Linked DNA regions of Homo sapiens. The protein of the gene in region 5 interacts with the protein of the main gene of each other region in a biochemical or structural test. Each region holds a gene or a part of one and is shown on either strand. Other genes may lie near its edges. The genes, in order: PTPN4, FRMPD2, LIMK2, DLG5, MAP2K2, SHANK1 and INTU.

Region 1 (4,359 bases), on a different chromosome or scaffold from region 5:
AAGAGAAGGAGTGGTATCAAGACTTCTCATTATATGCCTTTTTATATTATTTTGAAACTTGAACCATGTAGCCATATTGCCAATTCAAATACGAAAATACAATTTAAATACAATTTTAAAATGACAAGTCTGAGAATTATGGTAATATACACTGCTGTATTAATTAAACATTGACTTATCTGTACTTATTTTACTGTAGACTAACATAGTTATCTATGACTTATCTGTACCATTTCTAGCTATACACTAGATTTCAAGTTCCTCTGAAGAAAGAACAATAATCTTGATGATAAAGAGCATGTCTTATTCAATTCTGTATCCCCACAGCCAAGCACAGTGCCTAGTACCTAGCTGGTGCTCAAAGAATACATTAAATTAGCCCTGGATTGGATTTCCCTCTAAAGTCACCTCCAATTTTGGACGTAATTTTTAATTGTATTGCTAGTGACTCGTCTATATACAAGAATATACTTAGAATTCGTGTTTGTATAAAAATGAGCAAAGAGAAGCTCTTTACACAACTGTATAACAAAAACACAAGATACAAATTTAACTAAAAACAAAATAAACAATGACCCTTGGATTACTCCAAAGACCTACCAAAAGATGGCATTTAAAATGGGAGCAGGCAGCTATCCCAGATACATATCAAAGTTCACTCAGGGCATTTTTTTGATAGTAGGTGTTGCTAATTAGTTTTGCTTACCCAACTTTAAAATAACCATTACAGTTTCCTTCTCTTAATCCCAACAAATGTTAAGGTGTATGTAACCCTTGAAACGCAAAGGTATTTTTCTTGATGCTGTCCCCTATTCTTCCATGACCTGAGATCTTTTACCTCTATGGCAAACTTCTCGAAGAGCTGTCTCATCTATATTCATTGTACACTTGGTTTCCTCAATTTAGTTTATTACACTCTTCCACTATAACTCTTCTGCTAAAGCAACAAACCTCAAACTAGTACACCTCAGAAGAACCTTAGCATTTCAGCAGATTTTCCCAGGCTACCACTTCCTGGCTCCCCACTCCCCCTTTTAAGAATCTATAAGGTCTGAGATGAGACCTGGGGAGTTCATATTTTTCATTAGTATCTCCATAATTCTGATACAGGCAGCTCGCCTGAACACACTGGAAAACCAACTAGCTGAGATTATCAATAACTTTCCAACAGTCAAATTCAAAGCCTCTTGGTCTTCTCTTTTTCTCTCAGCAACATGGCAGCTTCATGAAATTCCTTACTTCACCATCATCTAACACACAACCACACTCCTCTCTCACAACCTTTCTTTCAGTCTTCTTCACTGGCTTCTTGATTTCGGAGAGCCCTTAATCTTTCAGTGATGGTAGTTAGGAGCTCTGTCAGTGTGCCTCTTCCTAACTTTATATATACTTCATAAGCAGTGACAGTCCCACCCATTGCTTCAGCTACCATCTATACAACCTTAAATCCTGCCACTTTGGATTCCACAGATACTCAGAGGCTATGCAGTACAGGAGAGAAAAGATGCTTCAGTATCAGACGAATCTGAATGCAAAATATTTACTCAGCTATTTACACAGTAACATGCCTAAAGACACAGACCTTTTTGAATTTCAGCTCTGTTCTCCTTTTAAAACTGGGAATAGCACCTTTCTAACAAATTTCTGTCCTGATTAAATGAGGGGAAAAAGATTAAATGAGAAGTTCTCTTTCCTACATGGACCTGACAGCAAGCTCTGAGGACCCCATGCCACAGGCCTCAGAGGCGGCAAGCAAGGAGAAAGGAGACAACTAATGCGGGGTCGGAAGACTGGCACATACAAGGGGATTGAGCAAATAAGTAAATACACTGAGGAGATAATAGGAACCAATTTATCACTGCTGGAGAAGAGATTTACAAATACAGAAAGGGAAAAGGCTAGACGAATCCTGAGATGTTAGATTGGAATTGGTTGTATCAGTGTGAACTTATAAAATACCTGTACATAGGCATAGAAACAGATTCAGATGTGTGTATACATATATGTATTTCCTAGCTCTATCCCCCTAAAAGTGATGACATGCCAGCAGAAATGAACACACTGAACACTCGGATCTCAGTTCCTAAATAGCATCTCTACTTAAAAAAGTAAAATAAAATCAGGATTCCTTGGAAAAATAAATGATTTCAGAGCTGGGATAGGAGAGTATTAAGATCATCTGGAACATCTTGTTAGGCCAGAAAGTAAGGAAATACACCAAGGAGGGGGACAGGTCAAGGAGATAGAGGAGCCAACTTAAAGGCCAAATTTGGGACAATTTGACCAACAAAATGAAATTTTAAAATGACAGTAACTAATATAAACCACTAAACAGAAACAAATCCAGGAGTATATATTGATATAAATGAATGAATAAATAAATGTATGGAGAAGAAGGAGAAAATCTTCTTTCAGTAGAATATGAACTAATAAATGTAGGTGACAACTTTCACAGTTGTGGCTGATTCAGGTAGCAATCATCAGACCTGAAGGCTCGTGGTTACAGCCTTCAGCTCTATTGACACACTCCCAGATATCTTCTCACATAAGAATTCCCAATTACAAAAGGAAAAAAACGATAACTTCACAGTAGAGAAACCCAGCAGACTTGAATTTAACAGGTGTTCAAAGTTAAACATCGCTAGTAGCAGGACTATACAGCACGTCTCTTAGTGATGTACTAAGAATATCACGACATTATTTCTATGGCATTCCTGCCAACAATGCACTCGGTCTGCACATGAGGAACCACTGGATGAACTTAAGTTGAGGAAAACATGTAACAGAAAAAAAGGACTCTGCTCATTAAAACTGTCAAGGTCATAAAGGACAGGGAAATATTGAGGAATCATTCCAAACTGATGGAAACTAAAAGATGTGACAATTAAATGCAATGTGTGAACCTGAATTGGATGCTGGACCAAAAAGAAAAGAGAGATACTACTGGGATAGTTGGAAAAATTTGAATGGCATCTAGGTTCGACCTGAAGGTAGTGTTATATCAACGTTGATTTCCTGATTTGGCGGTTATGTAGGAGATTGTCCTGTTTTGCTAAATACACACTAAAATATTTAGTAGTGATAGGGATCATGTCTGCAACTTGCTCTCAAATAATTCAGGAAAAAAGCCAAATGAAATTAGAAATGGTGCATTCCCCTGAAATGGAGAAATAAGGATTAAAATGTAGGACCAGAAATGAGAGATGATGAGGTTGTTTCACTGAAATTTGAGGATCCAATTAGATACAGTAGAAAAAGGGAAAGGGCTAAACACAATTCCAAGGTGACCACTTGGGGCATCTGGAAAAGGCCTTACTGAGCCAAGCACGAGGTGTTCCAGGCTCATCTTGAGCTGTGTATACACACGGTACATAGCTAGTACAATGTTAAAAATTAGTTTAAGGCGATTCAGGAGCTCTTTGTTGTACTTTTCTTGAGATTTCTCATTAGGTTTGAAATTATTTCAAAATGTTAAATGAGAACTCGTGACAACTTCGCTGTCTAGCAAAATACCTGGCTCACTGGAAGTGCTCAATAAAAATAATCTGGCCTTCCCTTGCTAAAGAAGGGAAGCTGCCAAAGAAGAAATCCTAGCATCATCTTCAACTCTTTCCCCCCATGTCCAAATGGACTCTCAGGTCTAGTGAAACTACTCAGTTTTCAGTTCTAATCTCATATCTATATTGCCCTATTTCTGGTTCCTATCATCCCTCCCCTGGACCACTGCAACAGCATCTGGTCTCTCTGCTCCATTTCTAACCTCATCCTTGCATTATCCTTGTAACTTTGCATCATTATCTAGAAGTCAGGAGTTACCTTTCAAAACCTGCATCTAATCTTATCATCCCTTATTTAAATACCTCTAAATTGTTCCTGAATGTTAATGCTGATTTCCCAAGAGGCAGACTAAATGCATGTTTAGGGCACCAGTAACGCAAGGGCACCAAAGAGATATTTCACACACACACACACACACACACACAGACACACACACACACACACACACACACACACACACGCGCGCACATGCGCATACACCAGTGAAATGGGGGAGGCAGCGGGTAAAGGGAGGGAAAAAGAGAGAGAAAGAGGAAGGTGACTTAAGAATTCTTAAGTTTACCTTAAGCTTACTTTAGGATTTGATATTTATTTCTGATTCCATAGTGGATGCCAAGGGTGAGTAGGAACCATAAACTTTCTAATACTTACAGTCTCTAAAACAGTGGTTTTCCCAATCCTTTTCCCAACTTGGCAACAAAGAAAATAATAATTTCTTAGCACGTTGGGATAAGCCACAAATGCTATTCAAAGCCAAAAGAAACCATCCTGGGGCAGGGTGGGGAGGGGGATCTGATATGC
Region 2 (4,359 bases), on a different chromosome or scaffold from region 5:
CCAAGCTGACCCTGGCATTTTTATATCTTCTATTATACCTGGAGGACCAGCAGAAAAAGCAAAAACGATCAAACCAGGTACATCTTTTTAAATTACTAGAGATGCTGTTTTAAGAAACCACTCTTTTTTATTTCCTTGAAGGATTATTGAGATGTTTTATTTTTCTAGGAGGGCAGATACTAGCCCTGAATCACATCAGTCTGGAGGGCTTCACATTCAACATGGCTGTTAGGATGATCCAGAATTCCCCTGACAACATAGAATTAATTATTTCTCAGTCAAAAGGTATGTTTTAACCCACTCTTGGGAGCTTAAGAGGCTCCCCTGTTTTCAGGAGTACATGATTACTGTGAGGTACTAGACCTTGAAGTCCACGTAGGTCTTCTATATTGCTTTCCTCATGGTGTTGGCTTGCAAAGAAGCAGTGTAGTGGCACAAATTAATAAGCTTTGCAATTTCAGGGGCAGAATGGGCGTTACCATGCTTGTCTTGCTGAAAGGGAGTAACCTACTCTAATTTTGTTAGACACGGCTGGATACAACCAGTCTTTTTTTTTCTGTCAACTCTCCTTGCATGGCAGGGAGGACCTTTTTATTGCCACCCAAAGTCCTTGTTGATAGGGTCGGCTCCAGGATTTCTATATTTTGTATAGAATCCTATACAAAATTTCTATATTTTGTATAGGTATAGCAATCAGCTGGGGAGGAGACAAGCACTGTTCTTTGTTAATCTTTTGTTTTGGGTTTAGGGCTACATGTGTAGGTTTGTTATTACAGGCAAACTCGTGTCACAGGGGTTGCTATACAGACCATTTCATCACCTAGGTGCTCAGCATAGTGCCCAATAGTTATTTTTCCTGATCCTCTCTCTCCTCCCATCCTCCTCCCTCAAGTAGGCTCTGGTGTGTGTTGTTCCCCTCTTTGTGATCATGGGTTCTCATTATTTAGCTCCCACTTGTAAATGAGAACATGCGGTATTTGATTTTCCTTTTTTTTTTTTGAGATGGAGTCTCACTCTTTCACCCAGGATGGAGTGCAATGGCACGATCTTGGCTTTCTGCAGGCTCCACCTCCTGGGTTCAAGCAATTCTCCTGCCTCAGCCTCCTGAGTAGCTGGGATTACAGGCACGCGCTGCCACACCCGGCTAATTTTTGTATTTTTTAGTAGAGACGGGGTTTCAATATGTTGGCCAGGCTGGTCTGGAACTCCTGAACTCAAGTGATCTGCCCGCCTCAGCCTCCCAAAGTGCTGGGATTACAGGCATGAGCCACTGCACCTGGCCTTTTCTTAAAGCTGAATTTTCGTGGCAAGCTCGCTCTTCTTACTTGATGTGCATGTTCCTGATCAACCTAAAGAGTAAAGTACTTTTTGATGATGCTTTTCTTCATCCTTTAGATAAGAATGAGAGAGCAACAACTGCCTATATTAAAGGAAAATACTATTGTTTTTATCGGGACCAAGCTTGAGGAGCCTGGAGGAAGTAATGGGAGTAGGCTAACATCCCTTCTCCCTAGTTTCCTGAGACCAATGCTGCTTTTTGGTTGGGTGATCCTGTAAACTAACAGCAGACCGCCTGCAAATTCAGGCTCATGATTGCTTCTTCACACTTGAGGGGTGTTGTACAGTTTTCCCTTGTATACAGGAGAACTTCCTGTCACACCAGCCAGCATTTTCTAGGTACTAAATGCAGGCACTGCATTTGCCTTGCCTTCTGAACACTTCTGCATGCATGCTCTCTCACTCTTGTACCTGTACACAGTGCCATGCAGCTCCCCTGTCCAGAAGCTATGGGTGGTGGAAGGTGGCCATGCTGGGGTCTCAGCCCCACACCCTTCATCCTGGGGTTGAAGCCTTCTCAGGGACTGGCCTCAGTACATCTCCAATGCCAGTCTCTGGCTTGCTGTCTGTTGGATTTCCCAGCACCACTGCTCTCCTTTCTGCAGTGGTTCAGCAATCCCTGTGTTTTCTTCCACATCCTCCACTGACAGGAGCAGTCAAACCATCCCATGTGTTGTCAGGAAACACAATGCAGGTGACCAAATCACAATTCAGCATAGTCCAAGGATGGCCTGCTGTGATGGAGGTTGTCAAAAAGCAGTACTCGAGGTCTGCTATTCTCAAACCACAACCTCACATTAGAATTCCAGACAATGAGTTTCCCACAATGGCTGGGAATAAAATGTCCTTTCACTGTGGCACCCCAGCCACCTTTTGGCAATGCTGCCTTCATCATGGTGGGGTTTCCTCATAGCTGGGCCACTGCCAGAGGAAGATGTTTCCTTGGTGATGCTGGCTGGGTCTCCGTGGCAGAGACTTGACTACCATGACTTTCTTCTATCTCTTTAGGCTGCTGTTAAGGCAGCTGGGCTAGATTGGAGATCAGGATCAGACAGATAAAATGTCCATCATGAGCATCTGTCATGGTCTACAATAAATTGAGTTTCCTTTACCAAAAAAGGTCTCCCAGCTCATATGTCTACTAGGCAGGACACCAGTTGCAGCATGGTTTGACTTTTCATTTCAATCGTAAGTCCCATCCTCACCTCTCATGGAGGATGTGGAAGAGAATGAGCCGATGCTTATGACACTGCCAGAAGGACAATGATGACAGAATCTGTGAATGAAAGGGCCAGAAATACAGCATTATGAAACAGTGGCCCTGCCACTCCCTGCTGGATACCTTTAGATTTGAATAACTTCAAATCAAATTCATTAAATCAGATTTATTTAAATTGAATTCATTCAGCATGTGAGTTTGGGCACTTCCCTGAGTGTTAATGAGTCTGTATCAAAAGTAGTAAATCTACTTGTATCCAGGTCTAAAGAAAATCTAACTGTTATTCATTCCTCCCACATATATTTGTGGAGCAGCTAATAATAACATGTTAACAGTAGATACATTTATTGAGGCTCTACCATGTACTAAGCTGTGCGTGTCTGTGTGTGTGTGTGTGTGTGTGTGTATGAGAGCCATATATATATATATATATATGAGGGAATATATATTCTTTCATATATACATATATATTTTTATCTTTCTTAACATATGTAAAATCTTTTCTGTACGTATAATCTCTAAGCCTCACCAACTCTACAATATTATTGATATTGATATTATCTCTACTTTAGATACAGGAAAATTTAGGTTCAGTTATGTTAAGCACCTTGCCCAAGGTTTTTCTACTGATTCACAACCTCACGTTCTTTTCTTTGTTCTATGCCAGGTCACGAGTCAGACACAGGGTGAGCAGGAATCAGTGGCCTAGCTTTCACTCACAGGGGCCTGCAGTTTGGTTATTACCAAGCCTCCCAAAAGGACCTGATACGTTGGTTTTTGGATCACATGGTGGCTGCAGATGTGCTCAGTGGGGTGTCCAGGAGAGGCTGGGTTTAAGACAGTTCCCACATGCTGGCTGTAGCATTTGGGGCAGGACACTTAATAGCTTTGACTCTGTTTTCTCATGTTTGAACTGGGATTACACCTTCCTGGTGGGTTTGCTGAGAAGATGGGAAGATGTCCATATCTTCCTATATGTATATCTAAGGTGCCCATCACATGGCTAGAGCTTAATAAGGGATAGCTGGCCTTATGAACTTCTTTTGAGCCTACGCATTCATAGTTGGGTCACGTAAGCTCTATCTAGGTTTCTAAATCCCATGTAGAATCTTCCCTTTCTCTAATCTAAATGTAACATCTTTCAGGAGGAGCTAAATTCATATTGTACCCGAGCAGCTATAAACGATCACTCTGTCACTGGAGGAAAACGCTGTGCCCACATAGAGATGCCACCAAGAAACCGGCCTTTTTAAGCTGTTGACTTTTTCTTGGCTTGTTTTTATAGGTGTTGGTGGAAATAACCCAGATGAAGAAAAGAATAGCACAGCCAATTCTGGGGTCTCCTCTACAGACATCCTGAGCTTCGGGTACCAGGGAAGTTTGTTGTCACACACACAAGACCAGGACAGAAATACTGAAGAACTAGACATGGCTGGGGTGCAGAGCTTAGTGCCCAGGCTGAGACATCAGCTTTCCTTTCTGCCGTTAAAGGTAATCATCCCTTGGTTTACTTTCTAGATCTGGATGAAAGAGAACAGACTGTGAAGCCCAACAGCCTGGCCCCTAGGCCCTTCCTGTTCTCTGTTTTCCATGTCAGGTGGATGGAAGTTACTTAGCCCCTTTGAGCCACAGCTTCCTCATTTGCATACAGAAGCAAATGCCTGCATGGCATGGTTGTTGAGAAAAACGCATAGAAGAAGGCAGAGTTCTAGGACAGTGTCTGGGCACAGGCTCAGTGTGGGTGCCTCTGGAGTCTTTAGTCACTAATTATAATTGTTGTGATAATAGCACCATGAGGAAAT
Region 3 (4,359 bases), on a different chromosome or scaffold from region 5:
CCACTCTCCTCACCAAACAAACTGAGTAAGTTAGAGCCCTCTCAGCTGGCATGTGTTGGAAACAGTGCCCTCTCATTAAAGTGCTGCCCTCACTCCCATTGCCTCTTGGCCTTGGTCAGTATGATGAAATTAGTGGGAGGCAGGGCAACAGAGGGCAGGGAAGAGCTAGAAATCCATGGCCTGGAAAAGGGAAGATTTGGGAGTGGCCAGGTATCTGTAGAGCCACCATGCAGAGGAGGGGGGCAGCTAGCCTTGTGTGCTCTGGTGGGCATGGTCAGCAGGAGGCAGAGCAAAAGGACAAGGGTAAGTAAACCTGTAGGTCGGGACAAGCCAAGAGCCATCCAGCGTCAGTCCTCTCTGGGTAGCCCAAGTAAAGCAGGAGCATACCCCAGAGAGAAAGTTCGCAGGGCTGTTCACCTGCAGTGCTGTGGACTTCAACCTTCTTGTTCCTTCTTCAGTAAGTGAAAATAACAGTCATTGACCATGACTATTATCGACCGCTTTTGAAAATGTAAACATAGTGACTTTATTGCTGTAAAAATCATACGTGTTTATCATCTTAAAATTCAGGAAACATGGACAGGTACAAAGATGTGCAAAATATCATCCAAAATCCCATTTGCTGGCCAGGCACGGTGGCTCACGCCTGTAATCCCAGCACATTGGGAGGCCGAGGCGGGCAAATCACTTGAGGTCAGGAGTTTGAGACCAGCCTGGCCAACATGGTGAAACCCTATCTCTACTAAAAATACAATAATTAGGCTGGGCGCAGTGGCTCACGCCTATAATCCCAGCACTTTGGGAGGCCGAGGTGGGCGAATCACAAGGTCAGGAGTTTGAGACTAGCCTGGCCAATATGGTGAAACCCCATCTCTACTAAAAATACAAAAATTAGGGCCGGGTGTGGTGGCTCACGCCTGTAATCCCAGCACTTAGGGAGGCCGAGACAGATGGATCGCGAGATCAGGAGTTCGAGACCAACCTAGCCAACATGGTGAAACCCCATCTCTACTAAAAAAATACAAAAATTATTCGGTTGTGGTGGCACACGCCTGTAATCCCAGCTACTTGGGAGGCTGAGGCAGGAGAATCTCTTGAACCTGGGAGGCAGAGGTTGCAGTGAGTGGAGATCCCGCCGTTGCACTCCAGCCTGGGCGACAGAGTGAGACTCCATCAAAAAAAAAAAAAAAAAAAAAAAAATTAGCCGGGCGTGGTGGCGTGCACCTATACTCCCAGCTACTTGGGAGGCTGAGGCAGGAGAATCGCTTGAACCTGGAAGGCGGAGGTCGCAGTGAGCCGAGATCGTGCCATTGCACTTCAGCCTGGGCGACAGAGCGAGACTCTGTCTCAAAAATAATAATAATAACAATAACTAGCCGGGCCTGGTGGCACATGCCTGTAGTCCCAGTTACTCAGGAGGCGGAGGCATGAGACTCAGGTGAACTAGGGAGACAGAGGTTGCAGTGAGCCAAGATCACACCACTGCACTCCAGCCTGGTTGACAGAGCGAGACTCTGTCTCAAAAAAAAAAAATCCCATTTGCTCATTTTTTGGATACTAGTATAACTATCACTCTAAACCAGTTAGTACTTAAATCAAGCAGATATGGGAGATGGTGAATTACCATCTACAGTGTTGTCATATATGTCACATACTGAGCATTATCAGCTAGTAGAATCTAGTTAATTGTTCTATGTGTGATGTATGCAGAGTTCCCATTTTGAATGTGTTTTTACTATGCTTAAATAAATGACTGATGTCAGCAACCCCAAAATGATACATCTGATGTAAGAGCCCCTGTTCCCCAATAATAACATCTAAACTATAGACATTGGAATGAACAGGTGCCCCTAAGTTTCCTCCCTCCAGGGTTTCTTGGCCGGTCTCTGAGGACTACACATCCCTACTCCCGTCTTTCCTCATCTTCAGGCGCAGTAACAGTATCTCCAAGTCCCCTGGCCCCAGCTCCCCAAAGGAGCCCCTGCTGTTCAGCCGTGACATCAGCCGCTCAGAATCCCTTCGTTGTTCCAGCAGCTATTCACAGCAGATCTTCCGGCCCTGTGACCTAATCCATGGGGAGGTCCTGGGGAAGGGCTTCTTTGGGCAGGCTATCAAGGTGAGCGCAGGCAACAATTGCTTTGCTCTTCTGCCCCCAGTCCCTCTGTCACTGTCTTTCGGGGATTTCTCATCACTTGGCCCCACCCCACACCATGCAGGATGCCAGGCCTCCTTCCTGGCTTTGGGTGTTGGTGTGAGAGGTATCCTTCACCCCCACCCAGGCCACCTAAGGTCAATGTTGCTGTTACAGTGAGCTTGTGGACCTGGAGATCCAGGTTGGGTTGAGCTGTGCCTGTGGCCCTCCTGCCTCCAGTCAGTGGGTGTTTGTTAGGTGCCTGCAGACCTCAGTACCGGGCATGCTACAAGGAGCACACAGGGGAATGGCTCCTGCCTCCCTGGTGAACAGTCTCAGGGACTAACCTCTCTCTTTCTCTCCTCCTCCTCCTCTTCTGCTGAGAACTGGGAGGGGGGGTCAGGTAAGACGTGTGTCTCAGCTTGGGGGCAGCAGGGCTGGAGAGCTCACCCCCGATCCACCCAGCTCCCTGGTGCATGTCTTTGGCACTGACCTTCCTGCCCCCAGACTTCTGTTCACTCAGGAGACTCACTTCTATGCCAAATGACCAGAGCCCCTGCTTGGCTTGGCAGCATCCCCTCCTGCCTTCTTCCCCACTTCCCTTTTCTGGGTTCTTGCCTGTCCTCTGTGCATGCCCAGCTCTCCAGGAAAGAGGGTTTGCTTCCGTGTGAGTCCCATGTTGCTCCACGCTGCATCTTCCACACATGAACTCTGTCATTCTGACCCGGCTCAGTGTGCCCTCCAAGGGATGGGATGGCCAGCTGCATAGATTTTCTCAAACAGTTCTCCAGAACTTCCTCTGGTCTCAGCACCATTAACAGTCACCCTCCCTGTAGGTGACACACAAAGCCACGGGCAAAGTGATGGTCATGAAAGAGTTAATTCGATGTGATGAGGAGACCCAGAAAACTTTTCTGACTGAGGTAAGAAGATGGAGGGGGCCCGGGAGGTTGGTGTCACCATTGGAAGAGAGAAGACCTTACAAATAATGGCTTCAAGAGAAAATACAGTTTGGAATTACTGTCTTAAAGACTAAGCAGAAAAGAGCCCTAGAGGAATATCCCACTCCCTCTAAATTACAGCGTAATTATTTGTTCAATGAACACTTACTAAAAGCAACACAAACAGGGTACAAGGGATGCAGTAACAAAAGATACAGGGTTCAGAAGAGCTCTCAGGTTATGAGGATGATGGACATGAAAACACTCCAATTTAGTACAACTCAATGTTATAATCCTCACCTGAACGCCCTGCTAAGGGAGCCTGGAGGGGAGCTCCCTGAGCACTCACACTCCTTGGGCATTTACAGTTTTCACTACCCCTCCCAAGTTACTTCATGGAGTAACTTAAGTTGGGGACACCTGTGGTCTGGGTATTGCCCTCCAAGCCACTTGGCCACTCCCACCCCAGTTCTCCCAATGCAGTTCCAAGGGTAAGGCCTATGAAGCCATCTCCATCTATATGGTGGTGGTCTTCCCTCATCCTGATCTTAGTGCCCTGTCATATCACAAGATAGGAGGTAGGAGATACAGGTGGTAACACTTGTCAAGCTGATTCCTTGGAGGGAAGAGGTAAGGAAGACAGTGAGAAGTTAACCACCAGCTTTCCTTGGCTTCCCCCACCCCCAGGTGAAAGTGATGCGCAGCCTGGACCACCCCAATGTGCTCAAGTTCATTGGTGTGCTGTACAAGGATAAGAAGCTGAACCTCCTGACAGAGTACATTGAGGGGGGCACACTGAAGGACTTTCTGCGCAGTATGGTGAGCACACCACCCCATAGTCTCCAGGAGCCTTGGTGGGTTGTCAGACACCTATGCTATCACTACCCTAGGAGCTTAAAGGGCAGAGGGGCCCTGCTTTGCCTCCAAAGGACCATGCTGGGTGGGACTGAGCATACACAGGGAGGCTTCACTGGGAGACCACATTGACCCATGGGGCCTGGACCACGAGTGGGACAGGGCTCAACAGCCTCTGAAAATCATTCCCCATTCTGCAGGATCCGTTCCCCTGGCAGCAGAAGGTCAGGTTTGCCAAAGGAATCGCCTCCGGAATGGTGAGTCCCACCAACAAACCTGCCAGCAGGGCGAGAGTAGGGAGAGGTGTGAGAATTGTGGGCTTCACTGGAAGGTAGAGACCCCTTCCTATGCAACTTGTGTGGGCTGGGTCAGCAGCTATTCATTGAGTTTGTCTGTGTCACTGAAACTGACCCCAGCCAACTGTTCTCAGTT
Region 4 (4,359 bases), on a different chromosome or scaffold from region 5:
ACATCAATGTCACACCACCTGCTTCCATCACAGACATACCGTGGGCGGTGATATCCCTGTGTACATCTGGGGCTTGCTCAAGCCTTCCTCCTCTCCCACAGCCTCTGCCACCATGAGGTCACCACTTAGGAATCTGCATGTATATTTGAAGATGATCTGGACAAGGATACATCATTCACTCTACACACAGCTGACTATTCATTCGTTCAACAAAAAATTATCGAACACCTATCTTGTACTAGGCTCTATTCTGGGCATGAGGACTATAACAGCAAATTCAGCTCAGGGAGGACAGCTCTGACACCTGCTTGGCATAGTATACAAGGAGCTCCCACAGAACCCTCAGAAACACCAGGAGATTCCCAGTTTTCTGGTTCTAAGGCTAGTTGCTGTCTACTACTGCCACTGTTGTGCTATATTACTCAGGGTAACAAAATGCTCTTCCATTTTTCCTACCATGGATTGTCAAATAGCACAGTGAAGTAGTTAGTGTTTTAATTACTTTGTAGAGGAGATAAGCTCAGAAGGGTTAAAAACCTTGCTCAAGGTCTAAAACCTTGTAAGGTCTGATCATTACTACCTAGACCCACCATCCCACTCCAGCAATGACCGCCTGTGCTAACTGTATTATCGCACAAAGGTGGTAATGCTTGGAGTGGACATTCATCTGCTCTTTTACCTGCGTGACATCGCTGCTGCTTGTCTTCCTTTAGACAACTGCTCTGCCTCCCTCTAAAAACCCACATAGTGTTGGAATGGGCTGCCAATCACAGTAGCCCATCACCTTACCCTGGGGTTCCACTGCTGGGCACAGTGCCAAAGCTGAGCCAGTCTTAGTCCTCTAGCCCTGGCCACAGTGACCGGGCCTCATGTGGACACATAACACTGGCCAGACCAATCAGAATCCTACCATGAGGTTTGTCTGCCTGGGCTGATTGGATAGAGCTCCCTTTCTTCCCTGGTCAGGGGCTGTGAACCTGAACAGAGGGGCCTGAGGTCATGTTCAGACCCGTGGGAAAAGCCCACAGCATCGATCCAAGAGGTCAAACGTCCCAAAGGCCAGTTTCCACCATCCATCCAAAGGTTGTGGAATATTCTAAGTCAATACATTTCTCTTTTTCTACCTAAGATGATCTGAGCTAAGTTTCTGTCATTTTGCAATAAAGGTACCCTGAAATGATACACAGATAAAATCTGCCCTTCACTTAAAAACCTCTTCTCAACCATTAATTTCAAATGACTCTGCCACTTCCTCTTAAATAACACAATTAAAACCACCTAAATTAGCCATGCAGGGTGGCATGCGCCTGTAATCTTAGCTACTAAGGAGGCTGAGGCAGGAGGATGGCTTGAGCCCAGGAGTTTGAGGCTGCAGTGAGCTATGATTGCACCACTGCACTCCACTGTCTCTAAAAAATAAGTAAATAAACAAACAAAAGAACCAAAAGAAAAACCACAACAGCTGGAGCTTTTACTTATGTCCCTTGCCCTGCTGACCCTCCAGGGCAGAGGGGATGAAGAAAAGGTGGCTGGTACCCGAAGGAAGTGGAGAGAGAACAAAAGGCCAGGCAACCTCTGCTGAATAATAAATAACCCACACCTGACAATCAGCACCCATCTGCATTAGTCCCACTAGAAAAGCCTGGCAGGGTTATTCCCTTGGGGAAAAAAAACAAACTTCCAGCTCTAATTTCTGACAGTGTACAATGCCTAAATTCAAACCTCCCACTCAGCCTAGCCATTAAGGTCCTCCAGATTACCTCTGCATCCCCAATTCCCTTCCACCCAGAGCCAAGGCCAAACCCCTGCTCTGCTCAGGCTGGGTAAACACATGGCTCCTCTCTATGGCTCAGCCTGTGCGGTCCAGCCTACGCAGCCCACACGTCCTCCCTCCATGGCTCCATGCATTCAGAGCTTCACTTCAACACCAAGTCCCAGCACATTCGTGAAGCTCTCCTCGGCTTCTCCAGCGGACGCTGCTGGCTCCATTCTCTTAAGTTTGATGAAGCAAGCCAGCCAGTTCACTAGGAAAGTAAAGAGGAGGCACAGGAGGTGTGGGGAGTGGGAACGAGAAGGAAACATCAGGCAATGAGCACGCGAGAGGTCCAGCCAAGTTCTGCCATTTCTGCCTCCCAATAGAGGCCTGGTGGGAATGACTTGAGGAGTCCCACATTTAGATGGTAATGAGAGCCACTAAAGGTGAATGAGAGTATCTGGGGAAAGTGTGTAGCATACCGAGTTTTTTATAAAAGAAAAAGCCTGTTTGTGCATCTCTATCAGTTGACCTGTCTCATAATGTCACTCTCATGAGCGTCCCATTCCCCCAACAAGGCGGCAAGCTACGGACTAGAATTACATCCTGTGCACCCCGGCCCCTGTCTACACCCCAGCCCCACCTGGGCCAGGCACTTCAATGCTCCCGGTGACAGAGGCAGGCAGTGCAGCACCATTAGCCCCATCTTACAGATGAAGATACTGAGGCTCACCCCAGGGGCAGGGAGTTGAGAATCCTCAAGGGAAAAAACTCAGGTGTTTCCCCAAATCAAAGGGAAAAAACAAAGGACTGCATGGGGCTCCAAGTGACCAAGCTAGACTTGGTTACTGGGAAAAACAAGAGACCCAACTGAGCCACTCAGAAGTAAACAATTCTGTCTTCTCCCTACCACCAGCTGGGGCAAAGGTGTTCGCTTGTTCCCCGCAGATCCATGTATCAAATCCGGGACAAAAGAAAGCTACATAATTTCAGAGTCCCACAGTGACTGGAAATGTCCTGAAATTGTAGTGGGAAGGCCTAACCAGGGAACAGGAAAAACCACCCCAGACAAGGAATCAGGGGCACTGGGCTTGGCCTTGACTCAGGCACCTTTCTGCCCTGCGACTTCTTCCTTACAGACAGGGCCCTGGAACCAAAGATCATAAGACACCACTCATCTCCCTGGGGCTGCCACAGAGTTAATGAGATATGAAGATAGGACACAAAATCCTGAATGACAATGCCCTATCAATACCGGAATAAGAGCCACACCTCCAACAAAAAAACCACAACACAGTGTGTCTCCTAGTCACTCCACACCCCCAGGCCTGAGCGTGGTAGGTTTAAATGTCTGGGGATCTAACTCAGCAAGAGTTGCCCCGATGGGTTGGGTTTGCTCACCTGCCCACCAACACCCAGGCACATGTCCTCCCCAGTTTCCTTCCAGTTCCAGGCCCCACGTGGTAGGCTGCTGCCGATGCAGACTCCCTCAGCACCCAAGTGCCAGTGGGGGATGGGCATTCTGGATCAGGAGCCCACACAGGGTGTGGAATCCATCAAGGAAGCTCCTAGGTGGGTGATGGCATCATCTCCAACAGAGAATCGGTGCCAAAGCAGCCACCCCTTGACGCTAAGGATCCCAGGGAGCCAGCTGGTTCCTCTCTCAGGCTCCGCAATGGCCTCGAACTGAGGCCAATTCAAACCCAGAGCTGCTGCCCAGAGCACAGAGTGGAAATCACTCAGGAGTGGAAGGAGGCAGGACCAAGTGCTGGGTTTTCCTGACTATGGCTCCTCAAGGAAGAAGACTTCCATTCCTTCAGCCAGAGCCGCTCTCTTATGCACTGAGCTTTGACCATAAGGAATACTTCCTGGCTAAAAGAAAAAAAAGCAAAAAAGTGGAGACCTACAACACAGCAATTTACCCTTCACAAAGGAGCCTCCCCTGCGCCGGGGCAGTGGCTCACGCCTGTAATCCCAACACTTTTGGGAGGCTGAGGCAAGCAGATCGCTTGAGCTCAGGAGTTCGAGACCATCCTAGACAACATGGAGAAATGCCATCTCTACACAATATACAAAAATTAGCTGGTGTGGTGGCATGTGCCTGTGGTCCCAGCTACTTGCGGGGCTGAGGCAGGAGGATGGCTTGAGACCAGGAGGCGGAGGCTGCAGTGAGCCGAGATTGTGCCACTGCACTCCAGCCTGGGTGACACAGTGAGACCCTGTCTCAAAAAAACAAAAGCCCCCAACACGCCACTGTTTGCTGACACACCATGTCACCCTCTTCCCCAGGGGCTTCAGGTGGCATCTTGCCATACCAAATGCTGTCCTAACTTTTTTCTTTCTTTTTTTTTGAGAAGGAGTCTTGCTCTGTCACCTAGGCTGGAATCCAAGGGCACCATGTCAACTCACTGTAACCTCCACTTCCCAGATTCAAGTGATTCTCCTGCCTCAGCCTCCCAAGTAGCTGGGACTACAGGCGCCCACAACCACGCCCAGTTAATTTTTGTATTTTTATTAGAGACGGGGTTTCACCATGTTGGCCAGGCTGGTCTCGAACTCCTGGCCTTAAGAGATCTGCCCGCCTCGGCCTCCCAAAGTGCTGGGAT
Region 5 (4,359 bases):
GGCCTTTCCCGCGCAGGGGCAGGGGCGGGAAGAGGCGGGGGAGAGGTCGGGGGATGTGCTCACTGGGCATGGGTGTGGCTGCTAGGTGCAGGGAGAGCTGGGTCACCAGGGCCACCCCACCTGGCTCCGTCATCATCTCGCCACCCAACCCCAGGCCTAGCCCAGTCTGCAGGCAGCTCAAATGCCCGTTTCTCTGCCCCAGCTCCAAAGGGCCACCAAAGACACAGAAACCCACAGAAGGCCCAGGGAGGTGGCCCGGCCTGGTCACGTGGCCAACAGGACCTTGGGGTGCAGTCCTGTGCCTCCCTGACAGCTGCAGGCCTGGAAGGAGGCCGCGTCCCTCCTTGTGCCTTGTTTTACTCATCTGGGCGGTGGAAACCCTCATACTGTGGCTCACTGGGTTGTTATGGGGACTGACGGAGCAGGAGCCACCCCGGGACCTACAGGTCCTTCTAGGCTCTCTGGGCCTCCTTCCAAGAGGCAAGGGCCATTCCTGTACCTTTCTCCGTGGAAGCGGGGTGATTTATGAGTCCACGCCCACGGGCGCCAGGACGCTCTGATGCAGAGACACTGGGCCACTGCTCAAGGGGCAGGCTGGCTCCTCGGCCTGAGCCCAGGGCTGCTGGCACACACCTCCCTCTGGACTCAGGGTGAGAGGCTGCGGTGGGAATTCTGGGTTCGTCTTCATAAAAAAACAATGCCCTTGGGAAGGAGCTGGGCTTGTGCAGCACAGTAGAAGATGGGAGACGCGACACACGTGGAATTGGTTCAAGAATTGCTTGAACCTGGGAGGCGGAGGTTGCAGTGAGCTGAGATCAAGCCACTGCACTACAAAGCTAGACAATGTCTCAAAAAAAAAAAAAAAAATTAGCTGGGTGTGGTGGTGCGCACCTGTAATCCCAGCTACTCGGGAGGCTGAGGCACGAGAATCACATGAGCTTGGAAAGTGGAGGTTTCAGTGAGCCGAGAAGGCACCACTGTACTCCAGCCTTGGTGACTCTTGCTCTGGTCAGAGAGAGACTCTGCCTAAAAAAAAAAAAAAAAAAAAAAAGAAAGAAGAAAGAAAAGGAAAAGAAAAGCCAAAAGGCATCAAGCACAAACCTCGTTCACAATATAGTCCAGGAGTTCAAAGATGGCCATGGCAGGCCGGCTATCCATCCCGTGACCTGCACAGGGAGAGAGATGGAGGTGAGATGGGCCGATGGCCACCTCACTTCTGCTGGGGGTTGGGCTCCCAGGGGGCTGATCACCACCAGGCGCCCTCCTCCACATGCCAGCCTAAATTGGAGGCGGGTGTGCAGAGGCACTGGACAAAGCTCCCCTGCCTGACTCTGGGTTCCATTCCCTGGGACAGCTACTCCTTGCCTGAGCCTCTAGTGAATTAAAAAAAAGGCAAAAGGAACAAGAACATTTTTTGAGAAGTCACACATTTGGCTCGGTGAGGCTTGCCGGACGTGCCAAAGTCATCACCCCTCCTCTCTGGAGGGCAGGGGGAGGGACGGTGCTGACCGCAGGCAAGGACAGCCGCGTGACCTTGCATGGAGCTGCTGGCGGTGATGGGGGCAGGCCCCAAGTGCCACTCAGGACGGGAGACTGGCTAGGGGTGGCTGACCCCTGTCTGAGAACCAGCTGGCCAGGCCTGGGCTTGGCAGCTGGACTTTCGCCTTCTGCCCGTCCTGAAATGGGCAGGTGGGCTGGGGCCCTGGGCTGGGGATGGTATACCACCTGAGAGTTGGGACTGGGAGAGGCTGAGGCTAGGCCTGAGGATAAGGACTTGGGGGCCTCTCCCTGGGATGAGATCAAGACATCCCAGCAGTCTGGCTGGAGAGGAGGAGGTGGGCTTGCCAGTGCTATGAAAATCTCCTTCTCACAGCCCCAATCCATCCGGGTAGGACCACAAAACGTGGCCTGTTCGTGTCATAAAATACTACTCAGCCTTTCAAAAGGACCCAGGCTCTGACACGCACCATGGCGTGGATGACCCTTGAGGACACTGCGCTCCAGGAGAGAAGCCACACACAAAACACAGAAGGCCACACAAGTGTGTGACCCCATTTCTGTGAAATGCCCAGGACAGGCCAGTCCAGAGGCAGGAAGGGGATGGAGAGTGACAGCTGATGGGGACAGGGTTTCCTCTTGGGGAGCTGAGAAGGTTCTGGAATTAGAGGTGATGGGGCGCAGCACTGTGACTGAAAACCACTGAACTGCTCACCTGAAATGAGTTGTGGGGTGTGTGCTTTGTAGTTCGGAAACATGGTTTTAAAACCAACCACAGTCCGCTACAGGGTCCTTTGGGGTCTGACGCCACCAACTCTCCCTGATGTCTGACTTTAAAAAAAATCACAGGACCCTCCTGTGATTCTGCACCAAGCAGGGTCCGCCCCCGGCTCTTCCCTCAGGCGGTGGAAGTGTCCGCTCGGCCCTCTCTGACTGGCGTCAGGGAGCTCCCGCTCCCGAGGTGCCCGCCCTAAGTGCCGGATTGTCCTCTGCGAGCCCAGCTGTCCCTGGGGCCTGAGCCCTCCCGCCCCCTCCCGGGCTGTGTCCCCTCCTGTGTGTGTTGGGGCCGGAGCCAACAGGCCACTGAGGGCCATGCCAAGTCCAATCTCCACTTCAGGACTCCCTGGAAGGCTTGGCCCGCAGCACAGGAGCGTGTCACCTGCAGAATGCAGGCTCTGTGGCGGCCAATTCCTTCCACTTTTCTGTGCGTTTGAATGCTTTCGGGATAAAATGTTGGAAAATCCAACTGCCCAGGGGCTTGGTGGCAAAGCTGCGCTCCCAGATCCCTCCAGCTGGCAACAACAGGTGCAGCTGCCCCGGACAGAACAGGTTTGGGGTGCTCACTGCTTCCAGCTCTGTCCCCGGAAACCCCAGGACCATGGGAGGACTGCTGACCACAGTCGGCACCATCCAGGGGGACAGGTGGTGCGCCAGGGGCAGAGGGGAGGCAGCTGCTGACCCTGGCACAGCAGGCCCCGCGCAGGGCACTGCGCGTCCAGACCGGAAGTTGCAGATTCAGGCCGTACCGCTGACGGGGCGCCCGGGGGGCCTCGGCCGAGGCGAGATGCTGTGAGGCTCTCCTTCTTCCCCGTCGACCACGGGCCGGCCAAAGATGGCCTCCAGCTCTTTGGCGTCGGGCGGGGGGATGGGGTACCTTCCGACGGCCAGCTCCACCAGGGACAGGCCCATGCTCCAGATGTCCGACTGCACCGAGTAATGTGTGCCCTGCAACCGCTCCGGCTGCAGCAGAGCCAGGGAGGAAAGAGCCCAGAGGGGCGAGGATGGCAGCTGGAACCCGGGAGGCTTGCCCCGTTACAGCCCCCGTCACCCTCTCCATGGCTAATGACCGCAGCAATGGATAGAGAGCTGTTACGCAATTCTACCTCCCGGCTCACCCACCCAGGGCCTCCCTGCGGCACTTGCTGAAGAGGCTTCCAGCCCGAGGCCTGGAGCTGGTGTTGACCGCAGCTCTTGAAGAGCCTGCAATGCTCAGCACTTTTGGGAATGGATGATGGGCCCCAGGAAGCAGGGGCCTCCTCCTCCACAGCTAACATCTCAGAGGCTGCTCCAAGGCTCAATTTGGCAGGTTGCTGAATCCCCAGTCGTTTCCTGAAAGACCCCAGATTCCAATTCCTTGGTCCAGAAATTAACTAAGGGCCGGGTGCAGTGGCCCATGCCTGTAATCCCAGCACTTTGGGAGGTTGAGGTGGAAGCCCAGGAGTTAAGACTAGGCTAGCCAATATGGCGAGACCCCATCTCTACTAAAAACATTTTTTTAAAAGTTAGCCAAGGCTGCCGGGCACGGTGGCTCACGCCTGTAATCCCAGCACTTTGGGAGGCCGAGGCGGGCGGATCACAAGGTCAGATTGAGACCATCCTGGCTGACATGGTGAAACCCTGTCTCTACTAAAAACACAAAAAATTAGCCGGGCGTGGTGGCGAGCGCCTGTAGTCCCAGCTACTCGGGAGGCTGAGGCAGGAGAATGGTGTGAATCCGGGAGGCGGAGCTTGCAGTGAGCGGAGATGGCGCCACTGCACTCCAGCCTGGGTGAGAGTGTGAGACTGTGTCTCAAAAAACAACAACAACAACAAAAACAAAAACCAAATTACCCAGCTGTGGTGGCACATGCCTGTAGCCCCAGCTGCTTGGAAGGCTGAGGCAGGAGAATTGCTCCCGGGTGGGAGGCGGAGGTTGCAATGAGCCAAGATTGTGCCATTGCACTCCAGCCTGGGTGACAGAGCAAGACTCTGTCTCAAAAAAAAAAAAAAAAAAAAAAAAAAGAAAGAAACCTGGTAGGCACTGCTAGAGACAAAAACCTAAGAGAGAATTCCAACAGGAAGGGGAGATCTGGCCGGGCGTGG
Region 6 (4,359 bases), about 47 Mb from region 5:
GGGCTGGGCGGCGGGACCCCCGGCCCGTCCTCCGAGGGGGGACCCCTTCCGCTCGTCACAGGGGCCCGGGGCTGGCAGTTTTCAAGGAACCGCACGTGCAGCGGCAGCCGCTCGGGTTCTTCGGGGGCTGCGGACCTCCAGGGCTTGCTTACTCCGGGGTGCGGGGCCGGGGGCTCCGTCCCCAGCTGCAGCAGGAGGGGCCCCACCCCGGGAGCGGTGGGCGGCAGGCGGTGTAGCAGGGAACGCCGGGCGGCGGGCGGGCTGGCGGGAAGGGACTTCTCCTGGCTGCCCAGCCCGGCCCTGTACCCCAGCTCCCGGCGCGCAGGGTCCGGCGGGGAGGCCCCCCAGAGACGCAGCACTGGCTCGTGGTGGGCGTGGGGCGAGTGGTGGTGCGGGGTGGGCGGCGGGGCCTCGTAGCGGGGCGATGGGGGCCTGGGAGGCGGCTGGGGGGCCCCGCCGCCCTCCGAGGACTCCTTCAGCGCTCGCTCGCGGGCGGCCAGGGCCAGCCCCAGCGGGGAGGCGGGATCCAGGGCCTTGCCGGTCAGCGGGTGCACCAGGGGTCGCGGGGGCAGGAAGCTGGTGAAGGCGCTGCTGCCCCCGCCACCCCCGTAGGCTCGGCTACCGGCCCCGTAGCCGCCGTAGCCCGCGCCGCTGCCCGCAGACTCCAGTCGGAGGTAGGGCTCGGCGGAGAACATGCCCTCGTCGATGGATTTGGAGTGGCGCAGCCGCGGGCCCGGGGCCGCCCCTGTGCCCAGCCCGCCGTCCCCGCCGTCCTCGTCCCCCGCGTCGGTGGACAGGAACAGCGTGGAGCGCCGGCGCGCCTCATTCTGCCAGCCCCCCTCCCTCCGGGCCGCCCCCACCAGGGCGGCCCCGAACTGGCTCGTGAAGTCCAGCGTGGCCGGGCCGCTGGGCGAGGCGGGGGTGGGCACGGGCGAGGGGGACGGGGGCACGGGTGACATGGCCGGGGCGGGGCTGGGCGAGGAGCCGCCGCCGCCGCCGCCTCCCGTGGGCTCCGGCTGGGTGGGGGGCTCCGCCTCGGTGCTGCTGCCCTGGCTGCTGCGGCCGCTGCTACTGGTGGACGGGGCCTTGATGATGATGGTGGGGATGGGGATGGAGTTCTTCTCCGAGGGCGCGGCCACGGCGGGCGGCGGCTGCGGGGAGGCCGGGGACGTGGGCGACGGCGCGGGCGGGAGGCCGCCGCCCTTCTGGGGCTCGCCTTCCACCTTGGTCTGCTTGACCAGCGGGCCCTTGCGGCCGCGGCCCGAGCGGGCGGGCACGTACATGGCTGCGCTGGCCGCCCGCGGGGGCAGCTGGAAATAGCGTAGAGCCGGGCCCTGGGAGGAGCCGCCGCCCCCGCCCGCGCTGCCGTGGTGCGATGGGGACGGGGCCCCCGGGGTCGGGCTGGGCCCGCCGCCCCTCCAGCCTCGCAGGCTGGGCTGGGGCCCCAGAGCCAGGCGGGGTGGAGGGTCGTCGGGAGAGCCGCCTGTCTCCATCTCGGGAGGATGAGGGGGGTGGGCGTGGTGGTGGTGGGGCTGAGGGGGCGGGGCGTGGTGGTGGTGGTGGTGGGGCGGGTGGTGGTGGGCCGGGGGCAGGGGCCCACTGTGGTACAGGCTCTTCTCGCGGCTCCCCACGCGAGTGTCGGGAGGGGAGGGCCCGTCAAAGGATGCAGGGGAGGAGGCGGGGAGGGGGCCACCAGAGCCAGGGTTGAAGGGCCCTCCCCGAGGGGAGGGGGTGAGGCGCCCTGAGGAGGAGGGGACTGGAGGTGTGCTGTAGGGAGGCTCCGGTGGGGACGTGGTGGGTGGCGGGGGAATGTCCTCCGAACCAGGCACAGACAGGCTGCGGCTGAATTTCATGGCTGGGGGTGCTAGGTAAGGTCTGTCATCTTCTGCCGCACCTGGGGAGATACAGAGGCTCAAGGAGGGGGACCCTGGCGGGGAGGGTCTCCCTGCTCCACTATCCCATAGAACCGCAACAATACTAATGACAAGAATGGCACCCCGTATATGCCAGGAACTTCACGTGGACTCGCCCAGCTCTTCCCTATTTGAGGTAAACCCAAATCTGCTTCATACAGAGGTACAGGTTGTGCACTGCACAACTGCAAACCGCAAGGAAGGTGAGGAAACTGAAATTCAGCAGAACTTCCTCCCCACGCCAGGAGGGGGCGCCATTTTCTAATTCCGTTCAAAGGCTCAGTGAACGGTTTGGGGCCAGCAAAAGTGGCTGGAGCTGGGAAGGGATAGTCCCCTCGTGTTTATGCATAGATGCGTGTTTCTTTTCACGTATATGCGGGAAAGAAATGCAACCAGCACATCAAAGCTGTGATTCTACAGAGAGAACCACTTATGATGAGGCTAAAGTTTAAAAGGGATTGGATCTATAAAAAAAAAAATCAGGTAAACGATGCGAGCCAGGTGGACCCCACACTCAGTGGGAGTGTAAGACTCACACTGGTGGACTTTGAACGCCAGGAGTTGGGGAAAGCTGAATCCAATCAGGGAAAAACAACTCCAGGAGGCGTGCAGGAGTTAAGTCTTTGCTTACTTCACTGCCAAGGCTCGGTCTTTGAACCTCTTCTCACCTCTGACTACTCCCTCTCAACTAGTGACCAGCTTCATTCACTGCCTTTCTGCTGTCGACGCCCACGTTTATGCCTGGGGCCCCATCCTCCGCCCTGAGCTCTGGGCCCCTATATTCAAATACCCACACCCAGCTGGCTGTCTCACGGGCATCTCAGACTCCAAACGCTCCAACCCAAGCTCCTGATCTCCTCACCAACAGACTCCTCCCAGCCCACGGTCCCTCCCCACCACCGCAGCAAACAGCAGCTCTGTCCTTTCAGGTGCTAAGACTGAAAACCTTGCAGCCACTCTTAGCTTTCTTCCTCAAGTCACCCACATCCAATCCACCAGCAAATCCTGTTGTTTCAAAACATATCCGGAATCCAATCCCTTCTCACCCCTCCAGAGTCAACACCCTGGGCCAGCCACTATCATTTCCTATCTGGATAGCAATAGCTGTCACCTCCTCTTTGGTCCCCCGGCTTCCCAGCTCATCCCCTTCAATCTAGTCCCTTCACAGCAGCCAGAGGGTTTCTGTTAAAACCGAAGTCAGCTCATGTCCCTCCTCTGCTTAGAGCCCTGCCATTCACTCACCTCACTCAGGGCAAAGGTTCAAGTCCTCACCATGACTCCCCAGACCCTGCAGGATCGGGACCCTGTCCCCCCACTGCCCTCATGTCCAGTGCTCACTTGGCCCCTGCTACACAGGCCTCCTCCCTGTTCTGTAAACGCACCAGACTCAGCCCGACCTCAGGACCTTTGCAGAGGTAGTTCGCTCTGCCTGGAATGCCTCAACCCCAGGGAGCCTCACGATTCCCCACTTCATCTCTAGGTGTTTTTTTTTCTTTTCTTTTTTTTTGAGACAGAGTCTCGCTCTGTCGCCCAGGCTGGAGTGCAATGGTGCGATCTTTGCTCACTGCAACCTCTGCCTCTCGGGTTCAAGCTATTCTCCTGCCTCAGCCTCCTGAGTAGCTGGGATTACAGGCACATGCCACCACGCTTGGCTAATTTTTGTATTTTTAGTAGAAATGGGGTTTCATCATGTTGGTCAGGCTGGTCTTGAACTCCTGACCTTGTGATCCGCCTGCCTCGGCCTCCCAAAGTGCTGGGATTACACGTGTGAGCCACTGTGCCTGGCCCATCTATAGGTTTTAGCTCAAACCTGCACCCTGCCCCCTACCCAGCACTCCCTATCTCTCTTACCTTACTCCATTATTTTTTTTCACTCTTTTTTTTTTTTTTTTTTTTTGAGACAGAGGGTTGCTCTGTCGCCCAGGCTGGAGTGCAGTGGCACGTTCTCGGCTCACTGCAAGCTCTGCCTTCCGGGTTCACGCCATTCTCCTGCCTCAGCCTCCTGAGTAGCTGGGACTACAGGTGCCCGCCACCACACCCGGCTAATTTTTTGTATTTTTAGTAGAGATGGGATTTTACCATGTTAACCAGGATGGTCTCGATCTCCTGACCTTGTGATCTGCCTGCCTCGGCCTCCCAAAGTGCTGGGATTACAGGCGTGAGCCGCTGCGCCCGGCCCACTCTTTTTTTTGTTTTCCATAGCACGTACAACTGCTAACATACTAGATAATTTTCTTGCTTATTTTCCTTATAATCCATTATCTGTCTTCCCCTGCTATAAGGCAAGCCCATGAGGGCAGGAACCTTTAGTCTGTTTTATTCGCTGACGTATCCCCATTCTAGAACAATTCCTGGCATGTGGGGAGCGCTTGGTAAACACTTGTAAAATGAATGAATGGATGGAATCGGGTATAAGAGAAACAACCAGAAAGCTGTAGCGGGGGCT
Region 7 (4,359 bases), on a different chromosome or scaffold from region 5:
AAAGCTCTGGTAGCATTGGCTCAGGAGGGAACCTCCTGATCTACAAGTTGCAAGGATCTGTGGGAAAAGCCTGGTTTTCAGGGAGGGGAAGCAAAATCCTTCACCATCTCCCTTGGCTGGACGAGGGAGTTCACTTTGCTGCGTGCAGTTCCTGGATGGGATCTTGCTCCACCCTGTTTGCTTGCTCTCCGTGGGTCATGCCAGCCACCTAGCAGTCCCAATAAGAGAACTTCAGTATCTCAACTGAAGATGCAGAGTTGACTCACAGTTTTCTTCCTTCTTGGTGGGAGCTGCAGAGCAGAGCTGCCTCTCTTTGACCATCTGGGCTCTCTGTTCTACTTTTTTTTTTTTTTTTTTTGCCTCTTGCATGTTGGTCACCTCCTAAATTAGTAATGTCCAAGTACTTATTCCTTATCAGATACTTTTCGTTAATTTAACTATCCTAGTACATACCTCACTGTGGGGAAAGGGGGAAAGATGAAAATTAAACTTACTTTTTATTTATTTGATTCTCTTTAAGTTTCAGGTAAGCTCAATTTTGACTAGGATATATATATGTGTGTGTGTGTATATATATGTATTTTTTAAACTATTTGTCAACTTTATTTTTTTTTGTTTGTTTTTGTTAAAATACATTCAGCGGCTGGGCTTAGTGGCTCACGCCTGTAATCTCAACACTTTGGGAGGCTGAGGCAGGTGGATCACTTGAGTCCAGGAGTTCAAGACCAGCCTGAGCAACATAGCAAAAACTCCATCTCTACAAAAACACCAAAATTAGCCGGGTGTGGTAGCACTCTCTTTTAACAGTCCCAGATACCTGGGAGGCTGAGGTGGGAAGATCACCTGAGCTCAGTCGGTTGAGGCTGCAGTGAGCTATGATCATGCCACTGCACTCTAGCCTGGGCAACACAGTGAGACCCTGTCTCAAAAAAAAAAATCACATTCAAGTATATTTCACATGCATTTTATATAATTCATGAATTTCAGGAAAGCTGCATGTAAATCTTTTTTTAAAGCTAAATCATGTTAAAGACACTGAAAAAGTTAACTAAAATTCTATGGTGACTTCTTTTATAAAATACTAATTTTTGGCCGGGCACGGTGGTGGCTCACGCCTGTAATCCCAGCACTTTGGGAGGCCGAGGCAGGTGGATCATGAGGTCAGGAATTCGAGACCAGCCTGACCAACATGGTGAAACCCCATCTCTACTAAAAATACAAAAATTAGCTGGGCGTGGTGGTGTGCACCTGTAATCCTAGCTACCTAGGAGGCTGAGGCAGGAGAATCGCTTGAACCCAGGAAGCAGAGGTTGCAGTGAGCCAAGATCACACCACCGCACTTCTGCCTGTGGAACAGAATGAGACTCCGTCTCAAAAAAAAAAAAAAAAATACTAACTTTTATCTTAGAAATATAGATCATTATGCATTGGGTTTTTTCAAAGGGGGAACACTTTAGTGAACAATAGTTTACTTGACCTTTAGTTGGAAAAGAAAACTAATGGTGGAGAATTTTCTTTGGCTGGGAGAATTTGGTAGATTGAGAGAAAGGAAGAACATCAATACTGCATTTTTACTTGACATTTACCCTGTAGATCCTCCTAGAGGTTCGATGCCCCCAAGACATTCCAACACTGAGCTGTTTCTTCTCCAGGTCTTAAGCTTTGAATACAAGCTATACCAGCACATCTAAAATCGGTCTCTACATTTTTCCATCTTAAATATGAGCTGTCCAGCTTAGTCAAAACTAACTGCAAAACACTGGGTGTACCATTTGAGTCATTTGGTCTTAAAAGAAACACTATTATCACTGTGTCACAGTTTGAGAGATTTTCACTTAAGCATTTAAGTTGCAAACCACTACATATTTGTCCCATTAGTGACTAGTGGGCCTTAATTTTGGCATTCAAATTAGGGTAAAAAACCTTGGTTCTTGAAATGCTACAGAAAATAGCTTGAGGCCAGGCACAGTTGCTCACACCTGTAACTCCAGCACTTTGGAAGGCTGAGGCAGGCAGATCACTTGAGGTCAGGCGTTTGAGACCAGGCTGGTCAACATGGTGAAACCCTGTCTCTACTAAAAATACTAAAAAAAAAAAAAAAAAAAAAAAAATTAGCCGGGCATGGTGGCAGGTGCCTGAAGTCCCAGCTACTTGGGAGGCTGAGGCAGGAGAATCACTTGAACCCAGGAAGCAGAGGCTGCAGTGAGCCTAGCTCGTGCCACTGCCACTCCAGCCTGGGCAACAGAACGAGGCTCTGTTTAAAAAACAAAAAAGCTTGAAATACCTTCCCCTTAAGATCACAATATTGTCATATGCTACCATTTGACTCACAACTGCTGTCTTAGGACTGCTTATTTACATATATATGTATTAAGACACTTTGGTTAAAACAATTTATTAAATGTCTTAAATTTCTGGATATGTCCCTGAAAATACCATGAACTACTTCTAATACTGATAATTATGAATAAACGTAGCTGTTGATCACCTCAGGTTTTCATACAAACTGAACTAAGGTAGGGTTTTATCATAGGGGACTTTTTGTTTCATTTAATGAAATTTTGATGTGTTGAACTGCTTTCCTGGTGTCAGAGAAACATGAGACCATCGCTCAATAATGGAAATAAAAAGGCAGAGCAGACTACTGATCTTAATAAAAGGAAAATTATTTGCTGTATCGTAGATGTGCACTGTAATTTCCATGTTAAAGAGGCACTGCATTTTTAAGAAATAAAATCACACATCTTATTTTTTCATTTCTAAATGGATATTGAACTAAGCTCTGAAGGCAAACTTAGCTGCCTATTTTTCCAAATATGTTCAGAATCACATCTGAAACATCAAACTGATTATCAGACAATAAAGTGCCTGTTACTTTATTAAATAAAGGGGGACAGGATGACAGTGCAGATATCCTAGAAATATGCTTTAGAAGACATAGAAACGTTGTTAAATTGGATTTTATTAGTATGCAAATGTTCCCTTCCACCAACAACTATTAATGTGAAAAACTATATATAGCTAGCATTTTTTAAAATATCAAATACTGTCTCATTATCATATGTTTAGCCCCCCCAAAATTACATTTTAGACTCTTACTTTCTCTCCCTCTCCCCTTTCTTTAGCTCTTGTTTGTGTCTTGCCAAAGAAGTGTACCTAGTAAGGGAATGTTTCTTATTTGTGCCAAGGGACTATTGATGATGCTGTATAATGGCAAGATAGCATTTTGTAATACCTGCTTTTTTATATTTCTAATACAAATGGGCAAAGCTGTGAAACCAATTTACTAGGTTTTTCTGCTTTGGACATAATTGTATGTGTTAATTCTCTCTAAACAGTGCCTGGCACATATTACATGCTATAAAAGTGTTAGCTACTACTGCTACCATTTATTATTATCATTATTAAATATCCATTGGTTGAAAAACCAAGTAGTCAGCTAAATCATACCTGCTACTGTACAAAATGTAGGGGAAAAGCTGAGAAAAATCATTTATCAATAAACAGTTTTCAGAACAAGAATTTATACTTTGGATATTTTTAAATTGTTAAATGTTATTGAAACTTTATGCACCAAAACTGTATGAAATAATTTAATTTTGCAGTTGTGTTTCTATATTCTATGTAATTAAAGCTACTTTTATACTATATTGATAGTTTTAAATAAAACTGGTTTGGAGGTTTGTTTGCAGTTGTATTGCCTTTTTCATGCATTCATCCAACATGTATTTATTGCATTTCTACCCTGTGCCAAGCGCTGATGTGGAGGCAGAGGCTATAGCAATGAATAAAACAGCTAAAAATTCCTGCCCTCATGGAGTTTATGTTCCAATGGGAGAGGCATACCACAGACAAGATAAATAAGTAAAATATGTAAATGCTGAGAGAAAAAATCGTAAAGCAAGAGAAGGGGATGTAAGATGTGGCAGACAGGGTGACCAAGGAAAGGGATGCTGAGCTGACTGCAGACCTGAAGTGAGGAAACTAATCATGCTGATTTCTCCGGAGAGCAAAGTGAACAGAACAAAGATCCAGAAACTCTACTTTTAATGTTAACATAAATCACTAGAATTTTTTTCCTTCCCTAATCAGTAAGTAAAATCAATGCAGTAAATTACTCAGTTTCAGCTCCGACCTATTGAAGAGTTGATTTAGTGCTTTTAATAAGGTTAAAAAGCTACTGGGCGCGGTGACTCACTACTGTAATCCCAGCACTTTGAAAGGCTGAGGCGGAAGAACTGCTTGAGTCCATGAGTTCAAGACAAGCTTGGGCTTGTCTTGATATGGAGACCCCATCTCCACAAAAAATTTTTAAAATTAGCTGGATATGGTGGTCTTTGCCTGTAGTCCTAGCTACTT

What was found.
Region 1: the proteins of MAP2K2 (region 5) and PTPN4 interact in a test that uses a peptide from one of them, tested with the Homo sapiens proteins (one large-scale study listed by IntAct).
Region 2: the proteins of MAP2K2 (region 5) and FRMPD2 interact in a test that uses a peptide from one of them, tested with the Homo sapiens proteins (one large-scale study listed by IntAct).
Region 3: the proteins of MAP2K2 (region 5) and LIMK2 interact in a test that uses a peptide from one of them, tested with the Homo sapiens proteins (one large-scale study listed by IntAct).
Region 4: the proteins of MAP2K2 (region 5) and DLG5 interact in a test that uses a peptide from one of them, tested with the Homo sapiens proteins (one large-scale study listed by IntAct).
Region 6: the proteins of MAP2K2 (region 5) and SHANK1 interact in a test that uses a peptide from one of them, tested with the Homo sapiens proteins (one large-scale study listed by IntAct).
Region 7: the proteins of MAP2K2 (region 5) and INTU interact in a test that uses a peptide from one of them, tested with the Homo sapiens proteins (one large-scale study listed by IntAct).

The regions. Positions count from the first base shown.
Region 1 is NC_000002.12:119,766,109-119,770,467, reverse strand, and holds part of PTPN4 (tyrosine-protein phosphatase non-receptor type 4), read right to left. Parts: intron 1-4,359. UniProt on the Homo sapiens protein: Phosphatase that plays a role in immunity, learning, synaptic plasticity or cell homeostasis. Regulates neuronal cell homeostasis by protecting neurons against apoptosis.
Region 2 is NC_000010.11:48,180,492-48,184,850, reverse strand, and holds part of FRMPD2 (FERM and PDZ domain-containing protein 2), read left to right. Parts: coding exon 1-77; intron 78-168; coding exon 169-285; intron 286-3,842; coding exon 3,843-4,048; intron 4,049-4,359.
Region 3 is NC_000022.11:31,264,017-31,268,375, forward strand, and holds part of LIMK2 (LIM domain kinase 2), read left to right. Parts: intron 1-1,929; coding exon 1,930-2,116; intron 2,117-2,967; coding exon 2,968-3,054; intron 3,055-3,759; coding exon 3,760-3,891; intron 3,892-4,127; coding exon 4,128-4,184; intron 4,185-4,359. UniProt on the Homo sapiens protein: Serine/threonine-protein kinase that plays an essential role in the regulation of actin filament dynamics. Acts downstream of several Rho family GTPase signal transduction pathways.
Region 4 is NC_000010.11:77,919,779-77,924,137, forward strand, and holds part of DLG5 (disks large homolog 5), read right to left. Parts: intron 1-4,359. UniProt on the Homo sapiens protein: Acts as a regulator of the Hippo signaling pathway.
Region 5 is NC_000019.10:4,096,178-4,100,536, forward strand, and holds part of MAP2K2 (dual specificity mitogen-activated protein kinase kinase 2), read right to left. Parts: intron 3,238-4,359; coding exon 3,024-3,237; intron 1,167-3,023; coding exon 1,102-1,166; intron 1-1,101. UniProt on the Homo sapiens protein: Catalyzes the concomitant phosphorylation of a threonine and a tyrosine residue in a Thr-Glu-Tyr sequence located in MAP kinases. Activates the ERK1 and ERK2 MAP kinases.
Region 6 is NC_000019.10:50,667,392-50,671,750, forward strand, and holds part of SHANK1 (SH3 and multiple ankyrin repeat domains protein 1), read right to left. Parts: intron 1,895-4,359; coding exon 1-1,894. UniProt on the Homo sapiens protein: Seems to be an adapter protein in the postsynaptic density (PSD) of excitatory synapses that interconnects receptors of the postsynaptic membrane including NMDA-type and metabotropic glutamate receptors via complexes with GKAP/PSD-95 and Homer, respectively, and the actin-based cytoskeleton.
Region 7 is NC_000004.12:127,723,047-127,727,405, forward strand, and holds the end of INTU (protein inturned), read left to right. Parts: 3' UTR 1-3,691; downstream 3,692-4,359. UniProt on the Homo sapiens protein: Plays a key role in ciliogenesis and embryonic development.